4 separate regions of the Homo sapiens genome follow, and regions 1, 3 and 4 are each linked to region 2. Evidence: fine-mapped expression QTL. A gene starts in region 2. Each other region holds a variant in brackets. All regions are shown on one strand. Distances are from middle to middle. Region 1 has its middle 42 kb from the start of LMTK2. Region 2 holds the start of LMTK2 (lemur tyrosine kinase 2). Region 3 overlaps LMTK2 (lemur tyrosine kinase 2). Region 4 has its middle 21 kb from the start of LMTK2.

The links. PIP is the estimated chance that this variant, and not a neighbour inherited with it, causes the effect.
Region 1: its variant is the best candidate, but not a certain one, in a credible set for the expression of LMTK2 in fibroblasts (GTEx, PIP 0.51).
Region 3: its variant is the best candidate, but not a certain one, in a credible set for the expression of LMTK2 in whole blood (INTERVAL, PIP 0.54).
Region 4: its variant is the best candidate, but not a certain one, in a credible set for the expression of LMTK2 in whole blood (INTERVAL, PIP 0.78).

Annotation. Positions count from the first base shown.
Region 1 is chr7:98,061,105-98,068,866 of GRCh38, reverse strand. No RefSeq gene overlaps it. Among named protein-coding and RNA genes, the nearest start is that of LMTK2, 42 kb to the left of the region's middle. The variant G/T (reference allele first, on the strand shown) is at 4,517.
Region 2 is chr7:98,102,209-98,109,970 of GRCh38, reverse strand. It overlaps LMTK2 (lemur tyrosine kinase 2), which reads right to left and starts at 3,109. Exons shown (of 14, transcript NM_014916.4): 1 at 2,691-3,109. The coding sequence starts at 2,793.
Region 3 is chr7:98,136,759-98,144,520 of GRCh38, reverse strand. LMTK2 (lemur tyrosine kinase 2) reads right to left here. Exons shown (of 14, transcript NM_014916.4): 2 at 7,079-7,206; 3 at 2,980-3,124. Among named protein-coding and RNA genes, the nearest start is that of LMTK2, 34 kb to the right of the region's middle. The variant G/C (reference allele first, on the strand shown) is at 3,880.
Region 4 is chr7:98,081,491-98,089,252 of GRCh38, reverse strand. No RefSeq gene overlaps it. Among named protein-coding and RNA genes, the nearest start is that of LMTK2, 21 kb to the left of the region's middle. The variant G/AG (reference allele first, on the strand shown) is at 4,239.

The sequences.
Region 1 (7,762 bases), 41 kb after region 2:
GTTTACCCAGTGATGGACATTCGGTTGCTCCCACCTCTTGGCTGTTGCAAATAATGCTGCTGTGAACACAGGTGGGCAAATACCTGTTTCAGACTCTACTTTCACCTTCTAGGGGGGTTACAGCACCAGGTGTGGAATTACTGAGTCACAGCATAATTCTATGTCTGATTTTTTTTTTCAGGAATCATTATACCAAGGAAGTAAATTTCACATTTAAATTTAAATAGCCACATGTGGCTAGTGGCTACATACTGGATGGCAGACATACAGAGAACTTCCAGCATTTGGCCAGGCTCCTTGGGGACCTGTCTCCATCATTCTCTCCTCTAGGTAACCACTACTCTGCCTTTTGTCACCACAGGGAGGCCAAGGTGATAGGAGGATTGCTTAAGGCTAGGAGTTCGAGACCAGCCTGGGCAACATAGAGAGACCCCTTCTTTACTGAAAAAAAGAAAAAGGCCAGGCATGGTGGCTCATGTTTGTAATCTCAGTACTTTGGGAGTTCGAGGCAGGAGGATCTCTTGACCCCAGGAGTTTGAGATCAGCCTGGGCAACATGGTAAGATGTCATCTCTACAAAAAATAAAAATATTAGCTGGGCATGGTGGTGCACACCTGTGGTTCTCAGCTACTTGGGAGGCTGAGGTGGGAGGATGACTTGAGCCTGGGAGGTTGAGGCTGCAGTGAGCTGGTGATCACACCACTACATTCCAGCCTGGGTGACAGGGCGAGACCCTGTCCCAAAACAAAAATTTCAAAAAATTTTTAAAAAGCGAATGTTTGCAGATTCCTAGGCTAGGAGGTTAAAGGCTGGAAATGGAGAAGTGAAAATAGTCAGTTTTATCATATGTAAATCTCCTGTATGTAACAACAAACCATGTTCATAAATGCTTAAGTAAAATGCTTAAAGCATGGGGTTTGCATCATAAAACAAGATGGTTGTTAACGTACAGTTGCTTTGTATTCAATACTTATACCTTTTTTTTTTTTGAGACAGAGTTTTGCTCTTGTTGCCCAGGCTGGAGTGCAATGGCGCGATCTTGGCTCACTGCAACCTCTGCCTCCTGGGTTCAAGCGATTCTCCTGCCTCAGCCTCCCAAGTAGCTGGGATTACAGGCATGCGCCACCACATCCAGCTAATTTTTTGTAGTTTTAGTGGAGACAGGGTTTCTCTATGTTGGTCAGGCTGGTCTTGAACTCCCAACCTCAGGTGATCCGCCCGCCTTGGCCCCCCAAAGTGCTGGGATTACAGGCGTGAGCCACTGTGCCTGGCTGTATTCAATACTTTCTTTTCCATTGCCATCACTTTTCTCACTCTCCTTGCTTCATTTTGAAAAACAAAAATAAAATCCTAAGTTCCTGAACCAACTGAACAAGCCCCCCTTGGCGAGGGAGACCTCAGAGAGAGTTTACACATGGAGTTCCCAGCCATGATGAAACGGGGGGGTTAGACAAGCTCCCCATGTCCTCTCCCTTGCTAACTGCAATTAGACTTTCTTTCCTAAGGGTTAAACAGAAACCAGCGCTTTTGAAAGACTTGCCAGACTCCCCTCCCCGTCTGCAGTTTCAACACAGCAACTGCCCAGCATTCTTCCCTGATAAGAGATCGCTGAGGTCCCGTGTGGTGCCTCCTGCCTGTAAATCCCAGCATGTTGGGAAGCTGAGACAAGAGGATCACTTGAGCCCAGGAGTTCGAGAGCAGCCTGGGCAACATAGCAAGACCCCATCTCTACAAAAAATCCAAAATATTCACCAGGTGTGGTAGTGCACACCTGTGGTCTCAGCTACTTGGGAAGCTGAGGTGGGAGGATCACTTGAGCCTAGGAGTTGAGGCTGCTGTGAGCCGTGATTGGGCCACTGTACTCCAACCTGGGCAACAGAGTGAGACCCCCCGTCTCCAAAAAAAAAAAAAAAAAACAAAAAAGAAAGAGAGGCCAGGCATGGTGGCTCATGCCTGTAATCACAGCACTTTGGGAGGCTGAGGCAGGCAGATCACAAGGTCAGGAGATCGAGACCATCCTGGCTAACACGGTGAAACCCCATCTCTACTAAAAATACCAAAAATTAGCCGGGCGTGGTGGTGGGCGCCTGTAGTCCCAGCTACTCGGGAGGCTGAGGCAGGAGAATGGCATGAACCTGGGAGGCGGAGCTTGCAGTGAGCCGAGATTGCACCCACTGCACTCCAGCCTAGGCGACAGATTGGGACTCCATCTCAAAACAAAACAAAAGAAGAGACCACAGATCATGGAGTGGTTCTGACCAGTCTACAGATGCTGTACACTGAGCGCCTTCGTGTCCTCTGCTTCACCTTTTGATGTGTAGGGCTTCATTGTGACACATTTAAATGTTAAGTCTCTGCCCAAAGTGAACACAGGATGCATATAACATGCTGTTTGCTGATGAGGCATATGTATGTTCTCTCTTCATGAATATTCATAGCTCCTCCCATAACCTGTTCAATATGTATAGTCACCTGTTGAATATGTATAGTTGAATATTTATAGTTCCGTATAAATTCCTGTCTCCTTCTTTCCTCCCTCCACGTACCTGCTTCTGGCTTCTCCCTGAGGCTACGCTTCCCAGCCTGTGGGATGGCATCCTGTAGGCTGCAACCCTTTGTAAGAAATAAAGCTCTCCTTTCCAAATTTGTGAACCTCATAATTCTTCAGTTGACATTTTGTGTAATTTTTTTCATCATTTTCTCAATTTTGGGAGGGGGACTGATTGTATACAAGGCTAGGCAAAAAGAAGAACCACACGGAAAGCATTATGAAAAATGCTCTGTTGCTGAGAATGGCTCCCTTGGTTCTGTCCTCGCTCTACACCAACATCTTCCAGGTTACACATCCTTCCAAAGGGCAACAAGGCTCTAATGTGCTACCAAATGTACTTGGACCATCACTGGCACGCTTTTCTTAAAATGTTTTTAGACCGGGCAAGGTGGCTCATGCCTGTAATCCCAGTGCTTTGGAAGGCTGAGGTGGGAGGATTGCTTGAGCTCTGGAGTTCAAGATCAGCCTGGGCAACATAACAAGATCCTGTCTCTATAAGCATTTTTAAAAATTAGCCAGCTGTGGTGGTGCTTACCTGTAGTCCCAGCTACTCAGGAGGCTGAGGCAGGAGGATCACATGAGCCTAGGAGTTCCGGGGTGCAATGAGCCATAGCTTACCACACCACTGCACTCCAGCCTGGGTGACAGAGTGAGACCCTACCTCTAAAAATTAAAAAATTTAATTTAATTAAAATTTAATTCAAATTTAATTTAATTCAAATTTAATTCAAATTTAATTTAAATTTAATTAAATTAAAATTTAATTTAAATTTAATTAAATTAAAATTTAATTAAAAATTAAAAAAATAAAAAAATTAATAAAATATTTTTAATTTCAGGGATGCCGATATTAAATATAAATGTTATAAATAGCACTCAAAAATGCTTCATTGAGGCCAAGCACGGTGACTCATGCCTGTAATCCCAGCACTTTGGGAGGCCAAGGCGGGCGGATCACTTGAGGCCAGGAGTTTGAGACCAGCCTGGCTAACGTGATGAAACCCCCTCTCTACTAAAAATACAAAAAAGTTAGCCAGGCATGGTAGCAGGCACCTGTAATCCCAGCTACTCAGGAGGCTGAGGCAGGAGAATCACTTGAACCCGGGAGGCAGAGGTTGCAGTGAACCAAGATCTCGCCATTGCCCTCCAGCCTGGGCAACAGAGCAAGACTCTGTCTCAAAACAAAACAAAACAAAAAACAAGAGCTGGATTTTTCTCCAACATCTCATCGCAGAGCCTTTGCATTTGCTGTTGCCTCTGCCCGAACACCCTTCCCCGCATGCTGACATCTGCGTGCCTGGCTTCTTCATTTTATTTGGGTATTTACTCAAATGTCACCTGCTCGGTGAAGCCTTCTCTGACCACCCTCTACTTGTAGCCTTTTTCCCACACTCTATATTTACCTCTCCCCACCATTTCATTTTTTATTGCACTTCTTTTTTTTTTTTTTTTTTTTTTTTTGAGACAGTCTCCCTCTGTCACCCAGGCTGGAGTTCAGTGGCACAATCACGGCTCACTGCAACCTCCGCCTCCCAAGTTCAAGCAATTCTCCTGCCTCAGCCTCCCGAGTAGCTGGGATTACAGGCATGTACCACCACGCCCGGCTAATTTTTGTATTTTTAGTAGAGACAAGGTTTCACCATGTTAGCCAGACTGGTCTCGAACTCCTGACCTCAAATGATCCACCCTCCTTGGCCTCTCAAAGTGCTGGGATTACAGGGATGAGCCACCATGCCCAGCCTCTCTGTTGCACTTCTTAACCCCTGACTTTGATCATTCTTGGTTTTGGTCTGTCTCCCTTCATTAGAACATAAGTTCTGGAGGCATAGGGGATTTTTCCTATGTTGATTATCTTGAAACTCAAGAGCCTGGAACAGTGCCTGGCACATAGTAGGCACACAATAAATAATTTTCAACTGCCACTGGCCTTTTTTCTGAGATGGGGGGTCTTGTTCTATTGCCCAG[G/T]CTGGTATGCAGTGGCACAATCATGGCTCACTGCAGCCTCCAACTTCTGGGCTCAAGTGATCCTCCCACCTCAGCCTCCTGAGCAGCTGGGACAACAGACGTGAGCCACCACACCTGGCTATATATTTTTTTCAACTCAATTTTAAATGGCTACAGTGATTGGTTTAGAAACAGACATGTAATCTACCAGTCATGACGGCTCATGCCTGTAATCTCAGGACTTTGGGAGGCCAAGGCAGGAGGATTGCTTGAGCCCAGGAGTTTGAAACCAGCCTGGACAACATAGTGAGACCCTGTCTCTACAACAAAATTTTTTTAAAAAATTAGCTGAGTGTGGTGGTGCATGCCTGTAGACCCAGCTGCTCAGGAGGCTGAGGCAGGAGGATCGCTTGAGCCTAGGAGTTCGAGGCTGCACTGAGCTATGATTGCACCATTGCATTCCAGCCTGGGTGACAGAGCAAGACCCATCTCTAAAAAAAAAAACAAAACAAAAAACGAAAACAATGTATTTTGTTGTTGTTGTTGTTGTTGTTGTTGTTGTTTTTAAGATGAAATCTCGCTCTGTCACCCAGGCTGGAGTGCAGTGGTGTAATCTCGGCTCACTAAAACCTCTGCCTCGTGGGTTCAAGCGATTCTCCTGCCTCAGCCTCCTGAGTAGCTGGGACTACAGGTGCACACCACCATGCCCAGCTGATATTTGTATTTTTAGTAGAGATGGGGTTTCATCCTGTTGGCTAGGATGGTCTTGATCTCTTGACCTCGTGATCCACCCCCCTCGGCCTCCCAAAGTGCTGGGATTACAGGCGTGAGCCACTGCGCCCAGCCCAAAAACGATGTTTTTAAAGAAAAGAAACAGATATGTAATCCACTTTGAGCTAGAGAGACAAAATGAGGCTTTGACATGGGAGAAAGGGGTCCTTTCTCTTGCCCTTCACTTGCCCTGGAAGCTTGCAGGCTAGAACTGTCACCACTGTCACATATCATAAAGGGAAAGCCTGCTTGAGAGTAGCCAGCAGAGGAAAGCCAGAGAGATAAAGCGAGGTCAGGGGTTGGTGACATCATTTGGCCTCTGTATGCAGCCATACCTGAAATAAACATCCAGTGGTGTGCTGGTAAATGTTTAACAATCAGCTCTGGGGTGAGGGGTAAGAGAGCCCTGATTCATAGCATCTGCCAATTTCCATAGTGTAAATATTCTCACCAGGCTGATTGAACTCAGGCTTGGGAGAGATTGCACACAGTCAGTAAGCTGCTCCATCATATCACTGCCCTGACTTCGAGTTCAGTGAATAACCCAAGATATGCCCTTCTTGCTTAAGTCAGCTTGTGTTCGGCTTTCGGTCACCCAAAGATCCCTGATACAGGTGCTGATAAAATAACAAGCCAAGGCTGGGCTTAGTGGCTCACGTCTGTAATCCCAGCACTTTGGGAGGCTGAGGCAGGCAGGTCACTTGAATTGAGGAGTACAAGACTAATTTGGCCAACATGGTGAAACCCTGTCTCTACTAAATACAGAAAAATTAGCCGGGGGTGGTGGCAGACGCCTGTAATCCCAGCTATTCAGGAGGCTGAGGAAGGAGAATCGCTTGAACCCTGGAGGCAGAGGTTGTAGTGAGCTGAGATCACACCACTGCACTCCAGCCTGGGTGACAGAGTGAGACTCTGTCTCCAAAAAATATATAAATAAATAAATAACAAATAAATAACAGCACAAACAAATGTGAAATTGCCCTTGTGACAGGCACAAAGAAGAAAGGCCCGTGAGATAGCTTGCTTGGCAGTGCTTACAAAGCCTTATGGAGGGAGGCATAGGAGGGAGGACCAGCCTGGGCAACAAAGTGAGACCCCGTCTCCATAAAAAATTAAAAAAAAAAAATAGCCAGGCATGATGGTGTGCACCTGTAGTTCCAGCTACTTGGGAGGCTGAGGCAGGAGGATTGCTTGAGCTCAGAAGGCCAAGGCTGCAACGAGCTATGATTGAGCCACTGCACTCCAGAGCGAGACCCTGTCTCAAAAAAATTGACAATGAGATATCACTTCATACCTGTCCGAATGGCTATTTGAAAAAAGATGAAAGATTAAGTGTTGGTGAGGATGTGGAGAAAAGGGACATTCGCACACTGTTGGTGGGAATGTAAATCAGTACAGCCATCATGGGAACCACTGTGGAAAACAGTATGGAGATTCCTCAAAAAATTTAAAAATTTAGCATATGACCTAGCATATGATCTAGCAATTCCACTACTGGGCATATAGCCAAAAGAAGTAGAATCAGGCTGGGGCGTGGTGGCTCACGCCTGTAATCCTAGCACTTTGGGAGACCTGAGGTCAGCAGTTCAAGACCAGCCTGGCCAACATGGTCAAACGCTGTCTCTACTAAAAATATAAAAGTTAGCCAGGTGTGGTGGCACGTGCCTGTAATCCCAGCTACGCAGGAGGCTGAGGCAGGAGAACTGCTTGAACCCAGGAGACAGAAGTTGTGGTGAGCTGAGATCGTGCCACTGCACTGTAGCCTGGATGACAGAGTGAGACTCTGTCTCAAAAAAAAAAAAAGTAGAATCAGTACATCAAAGAGATATCTGCACACTCATGTTAATGACGTCATTATCTTTTAAATTTTTTTTTCCTTTTTTTTTTTTTGAGACGGAGACTCGCTCTGTCACACAGGCTGGAGTTCAGTGGCGCAATCTCAGCTCACTGCAACCTCTGCCTCCCGGGTTCAAGCAATTCTCCTGCCTCAGCCTCTCGAGTAGCTGGGACTACAGGCGCCCGCCACCATGCCTGGCTAATTTTTTGTATTTTTAGTAGAGAGGGGGTTTCACCATGTTAGCCAGGATGGTCTCGATCTCCTGACGTCATGATCCGCCCGCCTCGGCCTCCCAAAGTGCTGGGATTACAGGCATGAGCCACCACGCCAGGCCAAATTTTTCCTTTTTTAAGTCTTTTGCACTCCTGATTGACAGCATTATTCACAATCGCCAAGATGTGAAATCAACCTAAGTGTCCATCACTGGATGAATGGATAAAGGAAACGTGGAATACTATTCAGCCACAAAAGGAGGAAATCCTATCATTTGCAACAACATGGGTGAACCTGGAGGAAATTATGTTAACTGAAATAAGCCAGGCACAGAAAGACAAATACTGTGTGATCTCACTTACATGGGGCATCTGAAAAAGTCCATTTCAGAGAAGTACAGAGTAGAATGGCCTGTTATTCCATCGTCTGCTCTGTGATATGGCAGA
Region 2 (7,762 bases):
CTCTTTTATCTACCATACATGGTCAAGCGGGATTCCTCTTTTTTAACCAGCGAGCTCACTAGTCAGGATTAGCTTAAAGGTTTTTTTTTAAACTTGGTCTAATATATCTTGGTCAAGAACCCACCTCAGCTAACGAGGATCAATAAACTCTTTTGGATGGAGAGACAAGCCCCTGAATATCTATGTCTGATTGTGCATCTTCCTTTCTTTTTTTTTTTTTTTTTTTTGAGACGGAGTCTCACTCTGTTGCCCAGGCTATGATGCAGTGGCACAATCTCGGCTCACTGTAAGCTCCGCTCCCTGGGTGCAAGCAATTTTCCTGCCTCAGCCTCCCAAATAGTTGGGATTACAGGCTCCCACCACCACGCACGGCTAATTTTTGTATATTTAGTAGAGAGGGAATTTCACCATGTTGGTCAGGCTGGTCTCGAACTCCTGACCTCAAGCAATCCACCCACCTGGGCCTCCCAAAGTGCTGGGATTACAGGTGTGATCCACTGCTCCCGGCCTGACTGTGCGTCTTTTCCACAGACTTTAACCCTAGGTACCCATTATTCATATGCAACACGTCAAAACATATACACCTATCCTACAAAGATCAGAATATGAAAGGAAAATTTGTAGCAAAAGTTGCTACAAATTACCAAATATTTCCTTATGCTATATGTATGTCAAGATTTGATATCTCTATTTACAGATTAACTTTTCTGATTGCTTTGTTCTACAACACCCCAACAAAATTCATTTTATAATTCATGACACCATAAAATTGTAAAAGAATGGAATAAAAACCGTGTAAGAAGTGTACAGGTGGCCAGGCGCGGTGGCTCACGCCTGTAATCCCAGCACTTTGGGAGGCTGAGGCGGGTGAATCACGAGGTCAGGAGTTCAAGACCGGCCTGGCCAAGATGATGAAACCCGTCTCTACTAAAAATACAAAAATTAGCCGGACATGGTGGCAGGGGCCTGTAGTCCCAGCTACACAGGAGGCTGAGGCAGAGAACTGCTTGAACTCGGAAGGGGGGGGTTGCAGTCAGCTGATATCGCACCGATGATGCACTCCAGCCTGGGTGACAGAGCAAGACTCCGTCTCAAAAAAAAAAAAAAAAAAAAAGTGTGCAGGCAGACATAGGTTCCTATAAAGAATCGATACTTCAAAATATATAAAAATCCAATTAAGTGTAAAGTCATCTGGAAATTTCTTGAATCCCCATCATATAAATACTCTTTACCTACTACACTATACTAGTGCTAACTTTCAATATCAATATCTTTAAATATCAACATCACCATCCTTCCACATAATCTTTCATTATTTCCCAGGCATTTCCTGTGACTCTTTCCGGGGTTGCCTATACACATCTGATAACATTTACTCTTCTTATCTATCGGATCAGAAAACAGAATTCACCTCACAAGTATTTGATCTAAGGCAGTAACAGAAATTTAGTGCTACATTATACGGTACAATGAGGACATTTAACGTTCAACTAAAGGGCACTCAATGACAAACCCTGATGTAGCTCTGGAAGCAATTACATGTAGCTTTCATCGTAGATTTGTTTGAAAAATATGTCTTTACTGGAGACAGTACATCCACATTCTGTACCCAATTAACATTATTCCAAAATAACTCTTGACCTCGAGAGTATTCCAAAACAGTTACAAGACTTAAAAAAAATCATACAACTAGGGGTATCTAAGACCTGGCTTTGGGGCTCTGCCTACAACGAAGCTGTGTCACCCTGGGTAGGTCATTTGACCCAACATGCCCAGTATCTCCTACTACGTAAAGAAGAAATTGGTCTAAATTTTCTTTAAGGTCTCTTCTAACTCTAACATTCTATGAATGTATGAAATTTCAATCTTTCCCCATTTCAAAGGTAATGGCGGCAGTCAATAACGCCAAGTTAGCCTAGATTTTTTTTTCCTTTTTAGAAAAATGACCCAACTTGGGATGTTTTCTTGGGTTGAAGTTTTATTTAGGAAAATAAACCCCAAATAAAAACGATGTTGAGAAAATGGGCGGGGGGGGAGAAAAGAAAATCATACACTGACGTTAGCTAAAATAGAAACTTCCATCACCCTTAAGCCAGTTTGTCAATAGTTATTCAACGCCTGCTACTCTAATCACTGGCTTCCTAAAATAGAAATATTTATAGTTGTTTCCTTCTCATCCCCGGAGATACATTCCGAATAAAAAGCACAGCGTCTAAAATCAATTTACAACTTCAGAATAAGTTGCAAGGAGCGAAAACAAACTCCGCACAGCTCGCCAAGTCATTTGCATTTAAGTATGATTAGGGCTAAGAAACGGTTCTTATGAGATGCGAAAAAAAAGCACAAGAGGCAGGTGACATCTGGAAAGGGAAGCTGAACTGCCAGGAAGCGATATAAGCTGAGGATCTTAAGGCAACAGGTCCAGGGCCGGCACCGCAGCCTATCCCGGGAGGGGTCGGTGGCTGCTACCTCGCCCGCCGCCCTCCCCAGCCCCAACGACGTCGCCTCGCTCCCGCCCCCCCAAATCCCACGCCCCTGCGGCAGAAATCTCCCTAATCACTCGCCTCCCTGGGCTTCCCGCCCCCGGCAGGCCCTCCGATTCCTCGGCGCCGAGGCCGGCCCGGCCCTGCCGCCCCCTCCCCTCCACGCCGAAGACCCCGCAGCCCCGTCCCCGCCGCGGGCCCGCTCACCTGCACCTGTTTGCGGAAGTGGCGCGGCCCCAGCACTGCCGGCGATCAGGAGGACCAGCAGCAGCAGCAGCAGCCTCCGCCGCAACGCCGGCGGCCCCGGCATCTCGCCCACGGCGCGGCTCCGGGGCCGGCCCTCGAGTCGCCTTCCGTCCGTCCGTCCGTTCGCCCGTCAGTCGATCCTGCCTCCCTCCGCTGCCTCAGTGGCACCCGCGCCGGTTGCTCCCGAGCACACGTTGCTTCTGCCAAACCTCGGTCCGGCTCCCGGTCCGCACCTGCCGCTCCAGTCGCAGAAACACCATCCTTCCCGCCCGCCTGCGCCGCCGCCGCCGCCTCTCAACAGCAGCAACGCCAGCAGCCCTGCGGAGCGGCGGGCCTGGGAAGCCGCGCTCCCGCCGCCATGATGGGCTGCGTCATGTGACGTAGCGCGGGGGCGGGATGTCGTGATGGACAGGGCGGCCAGCCACTCGTCAGTCCACACCGGCCCAGGAGGCCCCGCCCATCATCCTGAAGGAGTGAGCGGTGGCGGCCGGTGCGCCCCCTGCAGACGGAGGAGTGCGTGGGCAGCAGGTAACACCAACAATTATTTTAAATTGAAAAATACAGGAAAATGTAAAGAAGACCATGACAATCATCCTGATATTTTTTTCTCGGTGTTTTATAACATGCAAAAATAGGCCTGTCTTGTCTTCTGCCTTTTTTTTTTTTTTACTTGTCAGAGCTGTTTTAGGCTCTTCTCCTTAAGTTGACCTACACATCCTCTCAGCCATCAAACAGCTTTGGGCTTTTCACTTGAATTGATCAAGAGAATGCCTCTCTCGGCATCACCCACTGACTCACCTCCTGAGCTCAAGCTGTTGCCTCTTGTCCACCTGGCAGACACTCTTCCTTTCATCTGTCGAGACTCACCTGACATATGACTTCATCTATGACTCTCTAGGAGAAATGACTGTCATCTCCTTAGTGCCCCGCCCTGGCCCTGTGTGGACTGCTATCCTAGCTGCAGTATCCTATTGACCCGTGACTGTAAGCTCCCTGAGGACAGCAACTGTGTCTGATTCAGCTGGTGGGAAATCCCTGGTGCAGGACCTGGGTCGGAGCAGGTGTTCTCTAAAGCAATGGTGCATGGCCCTGGTCCCAGGTACCAGGGCAGAGCAGCTCCCAGGGGTGGCCTTCTCCCCACCAAGAGGTGAGGTGAGAACACAGTCCTGCAGAGAGGATAGAGAAAGCACTCTCCAGACACAAGTAATATAGTGGTCAGAGGCATGGGGGTTGGGAAAATGCTAAGCTTTTCTGGAGAGGCGCTATGGTTCAGTGTGTGCATGAGAGGAGCTGATTTCAATCTTATCAGATGAGACTTTGCCACCTGGCAACAGTGTAACCTCCCCAATTCTCCAAACTCCCCAAATGTCCATCCTAAATGCCAGCTGTCGATGATGTTAACACAGCACTGGACACACAGATGATGCCCAGGGAATATTTGTTGGATGATTGAGGCAAGCCAATAAATATCTAAGGAGACAAATACCTGGAACGAGAAACATTGAATTTAAAAGTCCATGGCTTGGCTGGGCACGGTGGCTCACACCTGTAATCTCAGCACTTTGGGAGGCCAAGGTGGGTGAATCACTTCAGACCAGGAGTTCAAGACCAGCCTGGCCAACATGGTCATACCCCATCTCTACTAAAAATACAAAAAGTATTAGCCAGACACGGTGACGCATGCCTGTAATCCCAGCTGCTTGGGAGGCTGAGGCAGGAAAATTGCTCGAACCCAGGAGGCGGAGGTTGCGGTGAGCTGAGATCACACCGCTGCACTCCAGCCTGGGCGACACAGCGAGACTCTGTCTTAAAAAAAAAAAAGTTCACGGCTTTCTGCTGATTATATGCAGAATTGGTAAGGAAGGCAAAGGTCTAGGAAAGAGACACAATCACCCTGTTGTACTTCTACTTCTTTTTTTTTTTTCTTTGAGACAGAGTCTGTCTCTGTCACCAGGCTAGAATGCAGTGGTGCGATCTCAGCTCACTGCAACCTCTGCCTCCTGGGTTCAAGCGATTCTCCTGCCTCAGCCTCCTGAGTAGCTGGGACTACAGGTGCCCGCCACCACACCTGGCTAATTTTTGTATTTTCAGTAGAGACAGGATTTCACCATGTTGGCCAGGATGGTCTCGATCTCTTGACCTCGTGATCTGCCCACTCCGGCCTCCCAAAGTGCTGGGGTTACAGGCATGAGCCACCGCGCCTAGCCTATACTTCTACTTCTATCAGGAAGCTTCTCACTTTGAGTTCAGAGAAGCCAGGGACACCCACACTGTGTACTGCAAGGAGGCTCGTGACTGCCTGCTGTAGTGCTGGCCTAAGGAAGGCCTTACCTGATAATCCTGGTAGTGGTTATTTACAACTAAAGTGCACTCCAACAGCACGTTGGACCACAATCCCAAAGTAGATTTTGCTATTATTTGAGCAAGCCCAAAAGTTAAAACAAACAAACAAATAAACAAACTTCTTTTCCTCTTTCACAGAACAGGGGTTACAGTGCACATCCCCCAGATGATGTCTAAAGGCAGCCTTTGCCCCACCACCCACCTCACCGTGTATGCCTTTACTCAATACTTGAAGACTTCCAGTTAGAGATGTTATTAAACAAACAAAAACCTGTTGGCTTTGTTTAGTTTCACCCAGAAGTCAGAAAACAGCCTTTAGCACAATTTGGAAATCAATACCTAAGATTAGAAGCAATATCTTTCAGTGTTTTACAGCCATTCTTTTTTTTTTTTCTTTTTTGAAACAGGGTCTCGCTCTGTCACCCAGGCTGGAGTACAGTGGTGTGATCTTGGCTCACTGCAACTTCTGCCTCCCATGCTCAAGTGATTCTCCTGCCTCTGCCTCCTGAGTAGCTGGGGTTACAGGCGCCCGCCACCACACCTGGCTAATTTTTGTATTTTTAGGAGAGACAGGGTTTCACCATGTTGGCCAGGTTGGTCTTGAACTTCTGACCTCAAGTGATCTGCCCACTTCGGCCTCTCAAAGTGTTGGGATTATAGGCATGAGCCACCACGCCCAGCCCTTTACAGCCATTCTTGCAAGTTTTCCTTCATGCCAAGCCTCTTTCAAGTTTTCCTTCATGCCAAGCTATCGCTTGGAAGACCCTCCTGCCAGTGTCTGTCCTGCCAGCAAGCTCTGGCTGAGGCCTGGATGCTGAAGGATGTGGAGTCAGCTTAGTATTGGATGAGCACTTCTGGAGCTCTGGCACCTAGCAGATACTCTAAAGGTTCACAGAGCTCAGCTGGATCAAATGGGGCACCCAGGAGGCCTGTTGGTGGGGTCCTGGAGCTGCTGGTGCCAACTCATGAAAGCCAATTGTTAACATGTTCAGGAATTATGCGCATTGGTTGTTCAACACAGCCATTGTTAAAATTTAAGTTATAGGCAGTGGCTCACGCCTGTAATCCCAGCACTTTGGAAGGCCTAGACAGGTGGATCACTTGAGGTCAGGAGTTCAAGGCCAGCCAGGCCAAGATGGCCTGGGCATGGTGGCTGGCACCTGTTATCCCGGCTTCTCATGAGGCAGAGGCAGGAGAATCACTTGAACCCAGGAGGCAGAGGTTGCAGTGAGCTGAGATTATGCCATTGCACTCCAGCCTGGGCAACAGAGTGAGACTCCATCTCAAAAATAAATAAATAAATTATATAAATGTATAATTAAACAAATTATTTTAAAAACAAAGGTCATGAGGGAAGCATTTGGATACGATTTGGGCTTGTGTTCCCACCCGGTCTCATGTGTGGAGATGTAATCCACAGTTTTGGAGGTGGGGCCTGGTAGGAGGTGATCGGATCATGGGAGAGGGTTCTCATGAATGGTTCAGCGCCATCCTCTTGGTGCTGTTCTTGTGATGGCGAGTGATCTTTGACGAGATCTAGTTGTTTAAAAAGTGTGTAGCACCTCCTCCCTCTCTCTCTCTACTGTTCCCACCGTGTGAGATGCCTCGCTCCTCCTTTGCGTACTGCCATCATAGTAAGTTTTCTGAAGCCTTTCAGAAGCCAAGCAGATTCTAGCATCATGCTTCCTGTACAACTTGCAGAACCATATGCCAATTAAACCTCTTTTCTTTATACATTACCCAATCTTAGGTATTCCTTATAGCAATGCAAGAATGGACTGATACTTGAAGAATGGAAGGCAAGAAGAGCACTAGCAAAATTGTCCACATAAACTTCTTCAGAACTCTAGGAATTTGCCAGAGGTTTGCAATATCATGAGTCAATTTGTTAAAGAAAAATGGCTGAGGCCAGGTGTGGTGGCTCACGCCCGTAATACGAACACTTTGGGAGGCTGAGGTAGGAGGATCACCTGAGCCTGGGAGTTTGAGAGCAGCCTGGGTAACATAGTGAGACCCCAATCTCTACTAAAAATAAATAATTAGCCAGGCACAGTGGCACATGCCTGTAGTCCCAGCACTTTGGCAGGCTGAGATGGGAGGATTGCTTCAGCCCAGAAATTTGAGGCTGCAGTGAACTGTGATTCCACCACTGCACTCCAGCCTGTGCTACATAGTGAAACCCTGTCTCTTAAAATAAAGAAAAGGAAAATGGCCAAATCTCATAAGAATAATGAGCTTCATGAAATTTTTACTTGCCCTATTTCCATTCTTCTCTCCCCACCTCTGTGATAGCCTTGAAAACCAGCAACTTCACCACCATGGGAACTGTGGAAATAAGCAGGCTAGCAGCTACCAGAGGGGGCAGAATAGGTTTGGAGCTCCCCCAAAACCTGTATCCCCAAAGAACTGTGACTATCTGACCTGTCTGGCAGCTCCTTAGAAAGGCACTATTTTCAGGGCTTTTCTTCATTTGATATGACTCAGAAATGCCTCAGTGAAAATAGTCCTATCCTGTTTGTTGAAAATAATCAGTGACAACTGTTTAACATTGCAATTGCCTGAGCCAGTGATACCAGTTGGCTGATGAGAAACTTAAAAGAAAAATCTAGGGAATAATATGTCATTGGGAGCTTTGAAAAGATCCACCATATTATTGGAAATCTAGAAAGCCATGTGCATGTACAAGGCTA
Region 3 (7,762 bases), 35 kb before region 2:
GAAGCCAGCAGTGGAAAATAGGTCACATTTAAATACCACAGGGAGACTTTTCAATATATATATATTTTTTCTTTCTTTTTTTTTTTTTGAGACAGAGTCTCGCTTTGTCCCCTAGCCTGGAGTGCAATGGTGAGATATTGGCTCACTGCAAGCTCCGCCTCCCGGGTTCATGCCATTCTCCTGTCTCAGCCTCCCGACTAGCTGGGAATACAGGCGCCCGTCACCATGCCCAGCTAATTTTTTTTTGTATTTTTAGTAGAGACGGAGTTTCACCGTATTAGCCAGGATGGTCTCAATCTCCTGACGTCATGATCCACCTGCCTCGGCCTCCCGAAGTGCTGGGATTACAGGCATGAACCACCGCTCCCAGCCTAAACATATATATTTTTTGTAATGTTATGGTTTTTGAACCAAGTGAATATATTATCTATGCAAAAAATAAAATACATTTTAAAAATAGAAAAAAAGAAAAAAATGGTAGAACTTGTAGAATTGCTTGTATGTGGTATATCTTTTTCATGTACTATATCACAAATATCTTTCGTAGTCAAATACAGTTCACCTTGATCCTTTTATAGGAACACATAAATCGCCACTGTATTGATTGACTATAATTTAGCAAATTGCATATTGACAGACATTTAATCTGTTTCCATCTTACCCTGCCAAACAACGCTGCAATAAATTCCTTTGTACATGCATATTTGCACACTTGCCCAATTAGTTCCTAAAGATAAATTACTAAAAGTGGAACTGCTCGATCAAGAGTCAACATGTCTCATATTTTGATACATGTTGCCCGACTACCCCTCCAGAAAGAACATCTTCAGCAATTTATAGCTGCACTAATCCTAGTGGATGAGACTGCCTGCTGCTCTCCACATGCTCGCCAATCACTACCTGGTGTCATTTCTTTTCATCTTTACCTATCTGCTCTCAGCTTAAGTCAGCATTTCTTTAATTAATAACGAGGTTACTATGTTTATTGGCCATTTGAGATTCTCCTTTCATGTCCTCAGCTTATTTATTCTAGTAGCGTGTTACTTTTTATCCTGCATTTGTTTGTACTCTTGATATGTAACCGTTTTTAATACTGTTTGTAGTTCACAAATATTTTTTGCGACTCTGTCAATTTGTGTGTGGTGTCTTTTTCTATACAGAATATTTCATTTTTGTAAATCAGATTTGGCAGTATGTTCCTTTATGGATTCTGGATTTGGTGCATGCTTGGAAAGGCCTCTCGTATCCCAAGATGATAAAAATATTCTGAGGGTATTCTACTCAGAGAAATTTAAAATAATTTCTTCCTACGGAGAGGGATATTAGGGTACAGGGCTTCAGTAAAACAGAAAGGGGTGTGTATATAAACAAAATTACAATGGCTGCCCAGGTCACCATAATTTCTCTTCTGCCTGCATCTGACTGTGCTCCCATCCATCCCCAGTAGATCCTGAAGAGAAGCTGTCTGTCTGTCCCCACCTTCCTGACCAGTGATGGCTCTGCATCCTGTGACTTAGGTGAAGACAACCAGAATGTCCCTCCAAAGGGTTTTCTTTCTGGTCCAAGGAGAGAGAGAAAGAAGCTCCTTTCCTCTATGGTTATAAAACTACAAGGGAATGGGTGTGGAGCTGCTGGCAGCCAACCTCCCTACTGAGCAGAGAAGCTGCCTAAGAGATTCAGCAGATATGCAAAGAGAAGAGAAAATCAGAAATGAATTAAAATGCTGATGATGTTCCAGGCCCTGGTTCTAGCTGTCTCCAAGGTCAGCTGAACCCCTGTTCTTCCTACGGTCTGGGTCCATGTGTCAGAAAATTCTCGTTTCCACTTAGGCTGATCTAATTTGGAATTCAGCTACTTGAAATGAATCCACCGGGGATCGACTATGGGCCTGTAAAAGCTCTGAGAAGTCTCTCCAGGTTTTTCTTAAGTATAAAGGAAAGCAAATTATCAAACAAGCAACAATAAAATATTTCCATTTAGAGTAAGTATACTTAAGTTATCCCAAGAATATATTAGACCTCCTTTTAAACTTCATTATTTTGGTTGGAGTAGGGGTATTGTTATTTACAGCAATTAAACACTCCAGGTTGTTTTTTTTAATGCTGCAAAATCTATAAATTTAAATATATTCTTACTTTACAAATATTTAAATGAAATGCACCAACTATGTCACGTTCCATCTGGCTTTTTCTTATAGTCATGCCTGCCTGCAGTGGCATCAGTTCGGGGGTTTATTCTGCCCTAGGCAGAGCCCACAGCGTGTGTCACACCAGAAAAGGTAGTCCTAGCATCTACAGACTTACACAGCCTTCTTGCGGCAATCTCAGAAAACCCTACTTCTTGAACCTACTTCTTTGGTCAAAGCAAAAGCTTAAAATATTTTTTAAAAGGTATTATTTTAATCACAGAATAAGAATTTCTTAAGACCACAAAAAGTTCTAACTCTAAAAAGGGCTTAAATTTCAAACTCTAAAAAAAAAAACTATAGTCACATTCTATTTTTCTAGTCACATTCTATTTTTTCACAAGACATCAACTAACACAGAACCAAACCTCTGTCTGAAGAAGCTTAGAAAAGTCAATCTGATTAACATATCCAAACTTTCCTCTCCTACCCAAATGCAGGGCATCCCAGTGGAAGCCAGCAGAGTCCTACTCAGCAAGGTCAGCCGTGGCCAGAACTAGCAGAGAAACCACCTCCAGAACAGAGCCTGGGAGTTCTGGCCAGGTGTTCAATGTCAATGAATCAAGGAGATTCGTTTTATTCTCATACCAGACCCAGGGTCCAGAAAGCAGAAGACAAAGCTATTGCAGGAATACAATGGGCCTGACCACTAGAATTCAGCTTCACTGGGAGCAGAAGGAAGAGAAATAAACCAAAGAGGAGATGGGCAGTCCAATATTTATGATGGCTAGGCTCCCATTCTCAGATCTCAGAAACAATTCATGAAAACGTGGCATTAGGCTGTATGGTCTTACCTACAGAAGGCTGGAATTGCGAGGGAGCTGGGAGTGAAATATTTGGTACTGAAAGTGTGAAGACCTCTGCTGGGGACTGAACAGAGGGAGTGTCTTCTGCTGGTGGTGTGAAATCTATCTCATCATCAAAATTATCTTCAAATTCCTAAAATGAAAGAGAGCAAGCATTAAAAACCATTGGCTAACATTTAAAATAGGAACATATTTGCACAATGATTTGGAACTTGCTGCCACAATTATTTTTTTCCAGTTTGTACTTAATGTTAAGTAAAAAGCATATGTAATTTTGTTCTCTGACTCCAAACAGCAGAATACATAAGACAGGAAAATAAATTATACATATTTCATGTAAGTTTTTAAACTGTTAGTTTGAAGTTAAATGCAATGGAATTTACACAAAAATAGTTTTCTAGGCTTAAAAATTTACTCTCAAATGACTACAGTTTAAGCAATTCTTTTTTTTTTTTTTTTTGAGACAAGGTTTTGCTCTGTTGCCTGGCTGGAGCACAGTGACTGGAGCACAGTGGCATGATCATGGCTCACTGCAGCCTGGACCTCCAGGAACCAAGTGAGCCGCCTACCTCAGCCTCCCGAGTAGCTGGGACCACAGGCACGCATCACCACGCCCAGGTAATTTTTTGAATTTTTTTTTTTTTTGTAGAGGCAGAGTCTCCCTATGTTGCCCAGGCTGATCTCAAGCAATCCTCCTGTCTTAGGCTCCAAAAGTGTTAGGATTACAGATGTTAGCCACAGCGCCTGGCCAAGCAATTCTTTTAATATTATTACTTTTGTGACATGATTCTTTGCATACTGAATCAAAATAAATCATTTTATTTTAAAGTTGTATATGCATTTCTAATTGAAATGTGATTTCTATCAAAATAAATGTTGAAAGACTCA[G/C]AAAAGATATTTTTAAGTGAGTTCTATTTCTCTGAAAAGAGTAACAATGGAAACATTACTAAATTAGCTAAAAAAAATCACCAGGATCTGAACCACAAAGGTCACTAAAAAAACCATGTGACGCATAAGTGTAATTAACATATAAGCACGTCTGGCTTTCTAAAGATGACAACTTTACAACTGAGGATGCAGGCAGGCAAAGTGGCTCATGCCTGTAATCCCAGCACTTTGGGAAGCTGAGGCAGGTGGATCACTTGAGCCCGAGAGCTCTAGGCCAGCCTGGGCAACATGGCAAGACCCTGTTTCTACAAATAATGATTTAAAAAAATTAGTCAGGCATGGTGGCGCAGGACTACTGGAGTAGTCCTGGCTACTCAGGAGGCTGAGGGAGGACTGCTTGAGCCTGGGAGGTCAAGGCTGGGTGATAGAGCGAGACCATCTCAAAGACAGAAAGAAGAAAGAAAAGAAAGAAAAGAAAAGAAAAGAAAAGAAAAGAAAAGAAAGAAAGAAAGAAAGAAAGAAAGAAAGAAAGAAAGAAAGAAAGAAAGAAAGAAAGAAAGAAAGTTGTGGAAACCTTTTACGTGACGTTCGGTGGGAAGCTATCGCAATTCTTCCGTCACCATTCTGGTGAACTGGTATACCTTGATATCCATGTTAATTTACCATAGACACGGCCAATTATCAAGTCATTCATCAAATCATTTGTTCAGATAATTAACATGTATTAGCCCTCCAGGCACCATAACAGAAGCTGGGAACAGATCAGTGAACAAGACTGTTCTCCACTGAACAGTCTATGAACTTTTATTTTCATTTTCTCTACCACCTCTCCTAGCCCCCATCCAATACAAGAAAGAAACTAAAAGTTACAATGGTAGATTTCTCTAACACTTGTGTTTCCATATGCGTGTGAGAAGACATTATTCTCATGTATGTTCTCCAGTGCATTAAAGGACATTATTGCTATTTGTATTGATGGAGTTGGGAGCAAGAAAAATGAGGTACCGTAACTTCAATCTGGGAGGGGATTTTTGAACAGAGGAAATCCTTCAATTTTCTTTTGGACATTCCTAAATAGGGCTCTCTCTGTAAAATGATTTTGTCCATCACTCCTACCTTAAAATAATGCCATTCAAAATTTGGCAGCAGCATGATGTACCACTAGATATACCAACAGATGATTCTAAAGATTCAGACCAGGTAATGTAGTATAAAAATAAGAAAAATGGCCAGGCCCGGTGGCTCACGCCTGTAATCCTAGTACTTTGGGAGGCAGAGGCGGGAGGATCACTTGAGCCCAGTAGTTCAAGATCAGCCTGGGCAACATGGTGAAACCCTGTCTCTACAAAAAATACAAAACTTAGCAGGGAATGATGGCGTGTGCCTGCAGTAACCTTAGCTACTCGGGAGGCTAAGGTGGGAGGATTGCTTGAGCCTGGGAGGTTGAGGCTGTAGTGAAGTGTGATCCAGCCTGGGTGACAGAGAGAGACCCTGTCTGAAAAAAGAAAAGAAGAAAAATTAGATAAGCCTGGGTCACTTTTAAAGTTTTGCTGCTGGCTATCTGGATGAATGTCGGCAAGTCACCTGTGTTACCAGACTGTAGCTTCCTGGTCTGTAAAATGACTTCCACGGACCATCAGCTCTAAAACTGCACAGCTTTAAATCTAGAGAAAGCCAATAAATCACAGATGGAAATACTCTTTACACAGTCACACAGACTCTAGAGCTGGAGAGTCCTCTAAGACACTGCGGCCCCTGCGCCAGCATCTCCGGGGGAAGCTTGGTAACAACACAGATTCCTGGCTCTCAAATGAACTCCCGCATTCAATCCTGAGATTCAAAAAGCTTTGCATGATCTAAGGCAAGAATGAGGCATCATGAAATGTGAGATGGAGACTGGATTTCAGTATCAGCAACACTGATCAGGCTTTATCTTTGTCCTGAAATGGCCAGGTTTCTGTGTAAAGTCCCACAGCAAGACTAACAAGCAAGGGACACAAACTGTCCACCGACAACTGTGCCCCTACTACTAGTGCCGTCAGCAGGCGCCATAGCAGTGTGTGTAGGGGTTCTAAGGCCTAGGGACTGATGTTGTGAGTAAAACCCTACAGGTCTGGGGCAAAATATTCTAAAGGAACTGATCTCCATTAGTGTTTTCCAACCACCCTCCTGTGTTCTCAGCCCTCTGTGTGTATACGGCCAGTGCTGACCCAAGAAAACAGCACATCTGTGTGTCTCCTCAGCGCTACTAGAAGGCTTGGGGTAAAGACAGCACACAAAAACAGCCATGAGGTTCTAAAGACCAGGGCCCCATGTCCAGGGAAAACAAGGCTTTAGCCAGAAGACGACCTTTTTTTTCCCTCAATTTGAACCACTGGACCTCCAGGCTCCTGGGCCAGCCCTGCGCGGTCAACAGGGAGTGACATTAAGGACCATTTTCTCTGCACGCCACATTCCTTCCTTCTCCCCCCCATGTATTCCTTTATAACAAGTATTTACATAGGCCGAATGCACTCCAGCAGGCATGCAGTAAGTTCTAGAGGCCTTCCTGGCTGGTTCACTGGTCCATTCCACCGTCTGCTGCTATAACCAGATCTTCTCTATTACCCTCCCTGGCCAGGACTTTACAATCTGCAGCCTCCTCCTCCCTGTTAGGGAACTTGAGGTTTCAATGATCTTCCTCTTTCACAAAACACACTGGGGGATCCCTCTGCCTCAGTAATCTCAGTGACCACAAATTCACCAGTCTACAGAAGTTTCGGGGTGGAGGGGAACAATCATCTTGCTCTTCCTCATAGCCCTTACGGACAACAGTGAATTCAATCACCACGCTTCACTCCTCACTCAGCAAGAACCTCAACTCACCACAGGCAAGTGGTTATTGTCAATGACAGAGGCGGAGCAAACTACAGCTGATGCACCAAATCCAAACCTCCTATTTGTGTAAATAAAGTTTTATTGGCACAAAGCCATGACCATTTGGTAACAGTGTCTATCCTGGCAGAGTTGAGCTGCTGTTTTAGAGACTGTATGGCCCACAATATTTACTATTCACTAAGGTAGAAAATATTTACTATTTGGCCATTAGGGGAAGAAAAAAAATCTGCTGATCCTGTTCCCAAAGGACTGTGCTATCCAGTTATTCTATTGAAAAACATATTGGAAGACCATTTTAAATGTTCCTACCCTCTGTGCTCACCTTAAAGTCTATTTCTGGGTCCTTACAGCAGGATACACAGTTTGCAATTAACACTATTAATATTATTAAACTGCACACACACAGGATCACAAAAGATGAGGAAACTTCTGCAGCAGGTGGCGCCTCCCCTGGAAAGAGAGATAAATAATATTAAAAACATGTACATTCCAAAATCAACTTTAATTAGTGAATCAATATATTTTCCTCTACATACAAATGGGTGTAAGGGTTAATAAAATAATGCTCGAGAAAAAGCTGATGATCCATCCAGGATAAGAAGCTGCTGTTTCTTTGAAATAATTTAGATTTACAGAGGAGTTACAGAGACAATACAGAGAGTTCATATACAGCCTTCACCCAGCTTCCACTAATGCTAACATCGTACATTACCACAGTATGCTGATCAAAACTAGGACAGTAACACTGGTAACAAGGCTATGAAGTGAACTTCAGGCTTTATTCGGATTTTACTGTTTTCTCCACTTTAGTCCTTTTTTCTTTTCAGACTCAATCCAAACTACCAACGTTGCATTTAATCACCACATGCCCCTCAGCTCCTCCAGTCTCTGACAGCTTCTCGTCTTTCCTCGCATTTCATAACTCTTGACACTTTTGAAGAGTGCTGGTCAGTTATTTTGTGGAATGTCTCTCAATCTGGGCCACCCAATGTCTTCTCAGGATTAG
Region 4 (7,762 bases), 21 kb after region 2:
GGGTTCACGCCATTCTCCTGCCTCAGCCTCCCGAGTAGCTGGGACTACAGGTGCCTGCCACCACACCTGGCTAATTTTTTGTATTTTTAGTAGAGACGAGGTTTCACTGTTAGCCAGAATGGTCTCGATCTCCTGACCTCATGATCCTCCCGCTTCAGCCTCCCAAAGTGCTGGGATTACAGGCATAAGCCACAGCACCCCGCCTATTTATTTATTTTTTTTGAGACAGGGTCTTGCTCTGTCGCCTAGCTTGGAGTACGCAATGGCATGACCATAGCTCACTGCAGCCTCGACCTCCCCAGGCTCAAGTAATCCTTCCACCTCAGCCTCCCAGGTAGCTGGTATTACAGCCATGCACCACCACGTCTGGCTGAGTTTTTTTTACATTTTTTTGTAGAGATGGGTTTTTGCTGTGTTGCCCAGGCTGGTCTCCAACTCCTGGGCTCAAGTGATCCTCCCACCTCAGCCTCCCAAAGTGCTGGGATTACAGGAATGAGCCACCGCACCCAGCCAAGAGCCACTTGTTAACCCCTAGCCGGCACATCAGTGGCCTCGCCATAGGACACCCTCCTGCGGGTCTTTACGATCACCTTTGCTTGACTTGAATCCCTGTCATGGTTGCGTGACTTTAATTCAGCATTAGGCAAATAAGGAGACCAAGTAGGTTAAAAGTCATTTGACTCTCCCTAGTTCTCTGCCAATCAAAGGCTGTGTGCCTCATTCTGGATGATAGCCGACTTTATCTGCATAATGATGTGTGGTATATCATTAATGCAAATGATACATCAATTACCAAACTGGGCAATGATGAGATATCATGATGGACAATTGGCTGTCTTTCCAAATGCCTTTGTGCAAAGTCCTTACCTGTTGTTGCCTCTAAACCTGTGTAACTCAGGGACAGCTCACCAGCTGCCAACAGAGCCTTGAGCCACCACCCATTTTTGGAGGGGGTGCGGAAACCACCCAATATGGTAAAAACGTGCTAACACATTTAAGTCTAACAAATTAACACTTTTAATGTACATAATTTATACAGCTATATAATGATGCTATGCACAAAATAATTACAGCAGGATTGATAAAAAGTACACAGCAGATAGTGAGATTCGGGAATGAAATACCATTTTAAAATTGTATTATGAACATTTTTTTTCCAAGCTCATTAGTATTCATGCCTTCCTTTCGAGGTAAGTTTTATTCGACAATGACTTGCAGATCACTTTTGATGTGTCAGACACTGCTGTAAGCACTTTATAAGTAATAACTCTTTAAGCTTTATCTAATTTTAGAATATTTTTATCACCCACAAAAGAAACTCTACCCGTTAGTTGTCATTCCCCATCCATTCCCCCTGGTAACCACTAATCTACTTCCTGCTTCTATGGATTTGCCTGTTCTGGGCTTTTTTGTTTTTATTTTTGGTAGAGACAGGGTCGTGCTATGTTGCCCAGGCTGGTCTTGAACTCCTGGCCTCAAGTGATCCTCCCTCCTTGGTCTCCCACAATGCTGGGATTACAGGCAGGAGCCACTGCATTCAGCTGATTCTTGACATTTTATATAAATGAAATCATACAATAGGTTGCTTTTGGTGATTGGCTTAATCTATCCTTATTCCCATTTTGTGGATGAGGAGACAGAAACAGAGAAGATAAGGACCTTGGCCAAGGTCACATAGCTAGTAAGTGACAGAAGCAGGGTTCACACTCAGGTAGCCTGGCTCCGGCATCCTTGCTAAGTATCAGAGTCAAAACCGAATAACGTCAAAAGTGTACATTGAGGCCCGTCTCATGCCTCGGTGCCTCATGCCTGTAATCCCAGCACTTTGGGAGGCTGAGGTGGGAAGATCACTTGAGACCAAGAGTTCAAGACTGCCCTGGGCAACATAGCAAGGCCCCATCTCTACAGAAAAAAAAAAAAAAAAAAAAAATTAGCCGGCATGGCTGCGCACACCTGTAGTCCCAGCTACTCAGGAGGCTGAGGCAGGAGGATTGTGATCACTTGAGCCTAAGAGATCAAGGCTGTAGTGAGCCATGATTGAACCACTGCACTCCAGCCTAGGCAACAGAGCAAGATCCTGTCTCAACAACAACAAAGTATACGTTAAAAGCTTTTTGCGAAGATGAGGTGTGGACCAAATTGCTCCTGGATACCCCTCAGGTGAGAGACCCTGTTAAGGTTTGCTTTCTGGTGAGATCGGGGCTGGGGAGTAGGGTGAAGAGCAGAGGTGGAGAACAAGCTCTACCCTGAAGTTAATAGTTGCTGAGTAAACCTTTGTCCTTAGAGAAGATAGACTCAATACAATTACATGTATTTTAAAACAGTAATATTAAAAATTAGCTGGGCATGGTGGCACATGCCTGTGGTCCCAGCTACTCAGGAGGCTGAGGTGGGAGGATCCCTTGAGCCCCAGTGGTAGAGGCTGCAGTGAGCCACGATCACACCACTGCACTCCAGCCTGGGTGACACAGCAAGACCCTATCTTAAAAACAAAAAGAAAAAATTTAAAAAAGAAAAGAATTGTAAGTTTCTGGGGACCACGGGCTTCTCTTGCGCAGGGCACATGTTCTGCTCACATCTGCTCCTTACCAATTCTTTGACAATTATTTCAACACACACAGGAAGTGCCCGTGATGTGTCAGGTTATGTTCCAGGGAGGCACCAGGGTAAACAAGAAGATGACTTGTTAGACTTCTAGGACAAGGAGAGCCCAGGCCGCTGTGGAAAACTCTACCTGCCTCAGCCACTCTGCTGGCCACACGACTTTTGCCCCAAGCCCATAAAACCGAGGGAGTCACCTGCTGCGTCAGTTTCTACCAGGCCAGCTGGAACAGGCTGGGCGAGTTGGTGCCAGACTGGCACATGGGCAGGTAGGGCAGGGCCCGTTGTCTTCCCAGGGATTAATCAGCTCATGCAGCGTCATCCTCTGTCCCTTCCTTGGCATTGGACCAGAACGGGGACTGGAGCCTTCCAGCAAAGGGAGTCCTTGGGGAGCTCCTCCAGCAAGACCCGCCTGGGACTCTCCACCACCCCATGCAATGCCACCCTGTCTCATCCACGTATCTCAGTGAGGGGCAGCGGGAAAGAGGAATAGGGGGAGCTTTTTCTCTGTCTGTCTGATTGTAAGCCCCTACTTCAAGATACTCTAAGGAGTCGCTTCTACCTTCCCCAAATCGCTGGGGAGCAAACGCTCCATGTGACCCTATAAGGTGAGAAGTGAGGAAGTGACTCCCCTGTAACCCAGCAGTCCAGAATCCCGGGTCCAAGGTCACCCAAATCAACCATCTCATCACTGTTTGCAGTTGCTCTCTGGGTCTGCCTTTGGCTTCTTTTTGGGTTCAGAGCCCAGCAGGAAGCCAGGCCTCACCAGCAGGCCCCCACTCCCACTGCTGGGGGGCCTAGGCTGGGAGGCCCCAGGGAACTTCCTGCACCTCCCTCTGCCACACCTGCTTGTACCTGAAATTGTTTATTAGGGCGGTTCCAACAGCCACCAACAGGCTTGGCCGGAATTTGTGGTTCTTTCTGTGTAACACTCAATGGCTTTATTATTTAATAGCAGAAGGAGTTGTGGCTACTTATTTAATTGCCAAACTTTGTTAGAAATGGGGCTTTTCGCTGGGCATGGTGGCTCACGCCTGTAATCCCAGCACTTTGGGAGGCCAAGGTGGGCAGATCACGAGGTCAGGGGATCAAGACCATCCTGGCTAACACAGTGAAACATTGCCTCTACTAAAAATACAAACAATTAGCTGGGCATGGTGGTACATGCCTGTAATCCCAGCTACTCGGGAGGCTGAGGCAGGAGAATCGCTTCAACCCGGGAGGCGGAGTTTGCAGTGAGCTGAGATCGCGCCACTGCACTCCAGCCTGGACAACAGAGCGAGACTCCGTCTCAAAAACAAACAAACAAACAAAACAAACAAACAGAAATGGGGCTTTTCGCTGGGTGCGGTGGCTCATGCCTGTAATCCCAGCACTTTGGGAGGCCAAGGCAGGTGGATCACCCGAGGTCAGGAGTTCAAGACCAGCCTGTCCAACATGGTGAAACCTTGTCTCTACCAAAAATACAAAAATTAGCCGGCTGTGGTGGCGGGCATCTGTAATCCTAGCTACTTGGGAGGCTGAGGCAGGAGAATCACTTGAACCCGAGAGGTGGAGGTTGCAGTGAGCTGAGATCGCGCCACTGCACTCCAGCCTGGGTGACAGAATGAGACTCCTTCTCAAAAAAAAAAAAAAAA[G/AG]AAAGAAATTGGGCTTTTCACTGCCCCTTGTACACCCAGGTTGTAATCACAACCCACAACTCATCTGCTAAGAGGGCAAGCGTGTTTGCCCTTCTCTGATTCCCCATGAATAAGCCATAAACAATTGCAGACTTGGTTCAGGATGCCTGGACAGCTGTGTGTCCCAGGTGGCTCGCAGGCATCTCCTGTGAGGTATGACATCGCTCCCCTGAATAAGTCCTCTGAGGGTGGAGCTGTGCCCATTTTACCCATGCAGGAATCAGAGTGCCTCTGTTTTCCTGTGGGTGATGCCAAGAAGACTAGGGCAGTATTTGATCATCAGCAGGAAGGATGGGCTTTTGAGGAAGCCAGCCTTCTGCTACTGACTTCATTTGGGCCTTGAGGTTATTAGTTTCTCTCTCTGCATCTATTTCCTCTTGGGGGAAATTGACCAACCCCATCTGCTCACCTAGTAACCAAGTACCCCTATTTTTCTAAGAAAAAGAGAATGAGTAATTATTTATTATTTTTTCCTCTTTTCTGTTTCCCCTGTTCCTCATTTCCTACTTAGCCCTTTAGAAATGCAATCATACCTTGACCGGGCACGATGGCTCACACCTGTAATCTCAGCACTTTGGGAGGCCGAGACAGGTGGATCACTTGAGGCCAGGAGTTTGAGGCCAGCCTTGCCAACATGGCAAGACCCCATCTCTACTAAAAATACAAAAGTTAGCCAGGCGTGGTGGCACATGCCTGTAATCCCAGCTACTGGGGAGGCTGAAGCACCAGAATGGCTTGAACCCAGGAGGCAAAGGTTGCAGTGAGCCAAGATCGCACCACTGCACTCCAGCCTAGGAGACAGAGCAAGACCTTATCCCTCCCCTGCCACACACAAAAAGGAATGACATGATAACCTTTTACCTCCCCTTCACCAGACACTCCCTGCAGGGCAAGCTTATCTAACTATGTGCTTAGAAACTCCAGCGTGGAACTCACTCCCATTAGATTGCCTTGAGAGACAACGGTCTATTTACAACCCAAAGTATGCCCACTATGAAACTCTCTCCCCACTGGATAGTTTCAGCCACTCTGAAGACTGAAACTCTCTCCCACCTGGAGAGTTTACAACCTAGTTCTGCTCATGAAGGTGCTAGCTTGACTGCCCAGTAAATAAGGCACCAAACAAATTTGGGCAGACCCCCACCTGCTCACTTTCTCCCCTGCATGCCATTCATGCCAGACCCCCGCTTTAAAAGTGCACACTTTCTGCTCCAAAAGCGAAGTGGTACCCTTAAGCCAGGAAGCCTGCACTTCTTCCCACAAACTAGCTTTAAAATAAAAAGCCACCAGACCTCGCGCTTGTTAATGGAATTTTGCAAGTGGCGAGTGACTGAACCTGTGATTCGGTTACAACCTCTCTTCTGGAAGGGCTGAGGCTCCGTCCAGCTCAGGCAGATGGATGGAGACCCAGGGAAAGGACAGATCAGAGGGGGCTTCGGCACAGAGGCCAATACCAGAAGATAAAACAACTCAGCTATCTCTTAGCTGGAAAATGGGGACTTCTTTGCCCCTAGGAGGTATCAGGTGACAAAAAATATGTGGGACATCTCTGGGCAGCCCTGGAAACAGCCTCTGTTCTCCTCTGCTGGTGGCATTTATGTGGGTCTTGCTTGACGACCCCCCGATTCCTTGGAGAACAACCATTTGTGATTTTTCTTCTTACCGAGGTGGCTAAGAAATGGAAAATTTGTGAGCTAATAATTCTCACAGAGAAAAATGATTGCAAACTCTTTCACGCTACAAAAAAAAAAAAAAAAAGTGGGGGGGATTTCAAAGAAAAGAATGGGACCAGGTGTGGAGGCTCACATCCATAATCCCAGCACTTTGGGAGGCTGAGGTAGGAGGATCACTTGAGCCCAGAAGTTTGAGACTGACCTGGACAATATAGAAAGACCTATCTCTACAAAAAATTTAAAAATTAACCAGTCATGGTGGTGTGCACCTGTAGTCCCAGCTACTCGGGAGGCTGAGATGGGAGGATTGCTTGAGCCCAGGAGGTTGAGGCTGCAGTGAACCCTGATCATACCACCGCACTCCAGCCTGGGTGACAGAGTGAGACTGTCTCAAAAAAAAAAAAAAAAAAAAAAAAGAGAAAAGAAAATAAAAAGAAAAAAGGGGGGAGGCCTCAGGCTTTTTTTTTTTGTTTGCTATTTTATTATTTTTTATTATACATATTTAAGGTGTACAACATGACGTTTTGATATACATATAATCAGTCAAATGGTTACTATATCCAAGTAAATGAACGTATTCATCATTTTACATAGTTACCCATTTGTGTGTTTGGCAAGAGCAACCTAAAATCTATTCTTTTAGCAAAAATCCCAAATACAATATGATATTGTGAACTACAGTTCTTATGGTGTACATTTGATCTCTGTCTGGTGGGAGAACGGGTAGTGAATGGTGACTCTCTGGAGAGGCTGTCCATGGGAGCCAGAGACCTGGCCAGAGAGCTGGGGTCCGGCAGTGTCAGCTGCTATGTCCCCAGAAAGGCCTGATTGTGCAGTACAGGCCCTGAGCACAGAAACTCCAATGCAGGCCGGGCATGGTGGCCCACGCCTGTAATCCCAGCACTTTGGGAGGCTGAGGTGGGCGGATCACGGGGTCAGGAGATCGAGACCATCCTGGCTAACACGGTGAAACCCCATCTCTACTAAAAATACAAAAAATTAGCCGGGCGTGGTGGCGGGCGCCTGTAGTCCCAGCTATTCGGGAGGCTGAGGCAGGAGAATGGCGTGAACCCGGGAGGCGGAGGTTGCAGTGAGCCAAGACCGTGCCACTGCACTCCAGCCTGGGTGACACAGTGAGACTCTGTCTCGAAAAAAAAAAAAAAAAGAAACTCCAATGCAGCCATGAGGTCAAGACCATGTGAAATGAGCTGGGCGTGGTAGCTCACGCCTATAATCCTAACACTTTGGGAGGCCGACATGTGCAGATCACTTGAGGTCAGGGGTTTGAGACCAGCCTGGCCAACTTAGTGAAACCCCATCTCTGCTAAAAATACAAAAATTAGCCAGGCATGGTGGCGCGTGCCTGTAATCCCAGCTACTCTGGAGGCTGAGGCAGGAGAATCACTTGAACCCAGGAGGCAGAGGTTGCAGTGAGCTGAGATTGTGCCAAAACACCCCAGCCTGGGTGACGGAGAGAGACTCTGTTTCAAAATATATATTCATATATATATTTATATATATATGAATATATATATTCATATATATATTTATATATATATTTATATATATTCATATATATATTTATATATATATTCATATATATTTAACGTAAAATGTACATTTCAGAGAGGCATAAATAGCAGAGAATCACATCTTGGTGAGGTTGGACAAGGTTGGAAAACATAAGGAAGGTGAGAGTATTCCAGCCAGAGGACAGAGGTCAAAGGCTGTAAAAAGCAGGAAAGCAGGAACCATGCAAATGTGACCCAACCAGGAGTGACCGTGTGAACAAGACAAAATGCCCATGTGACC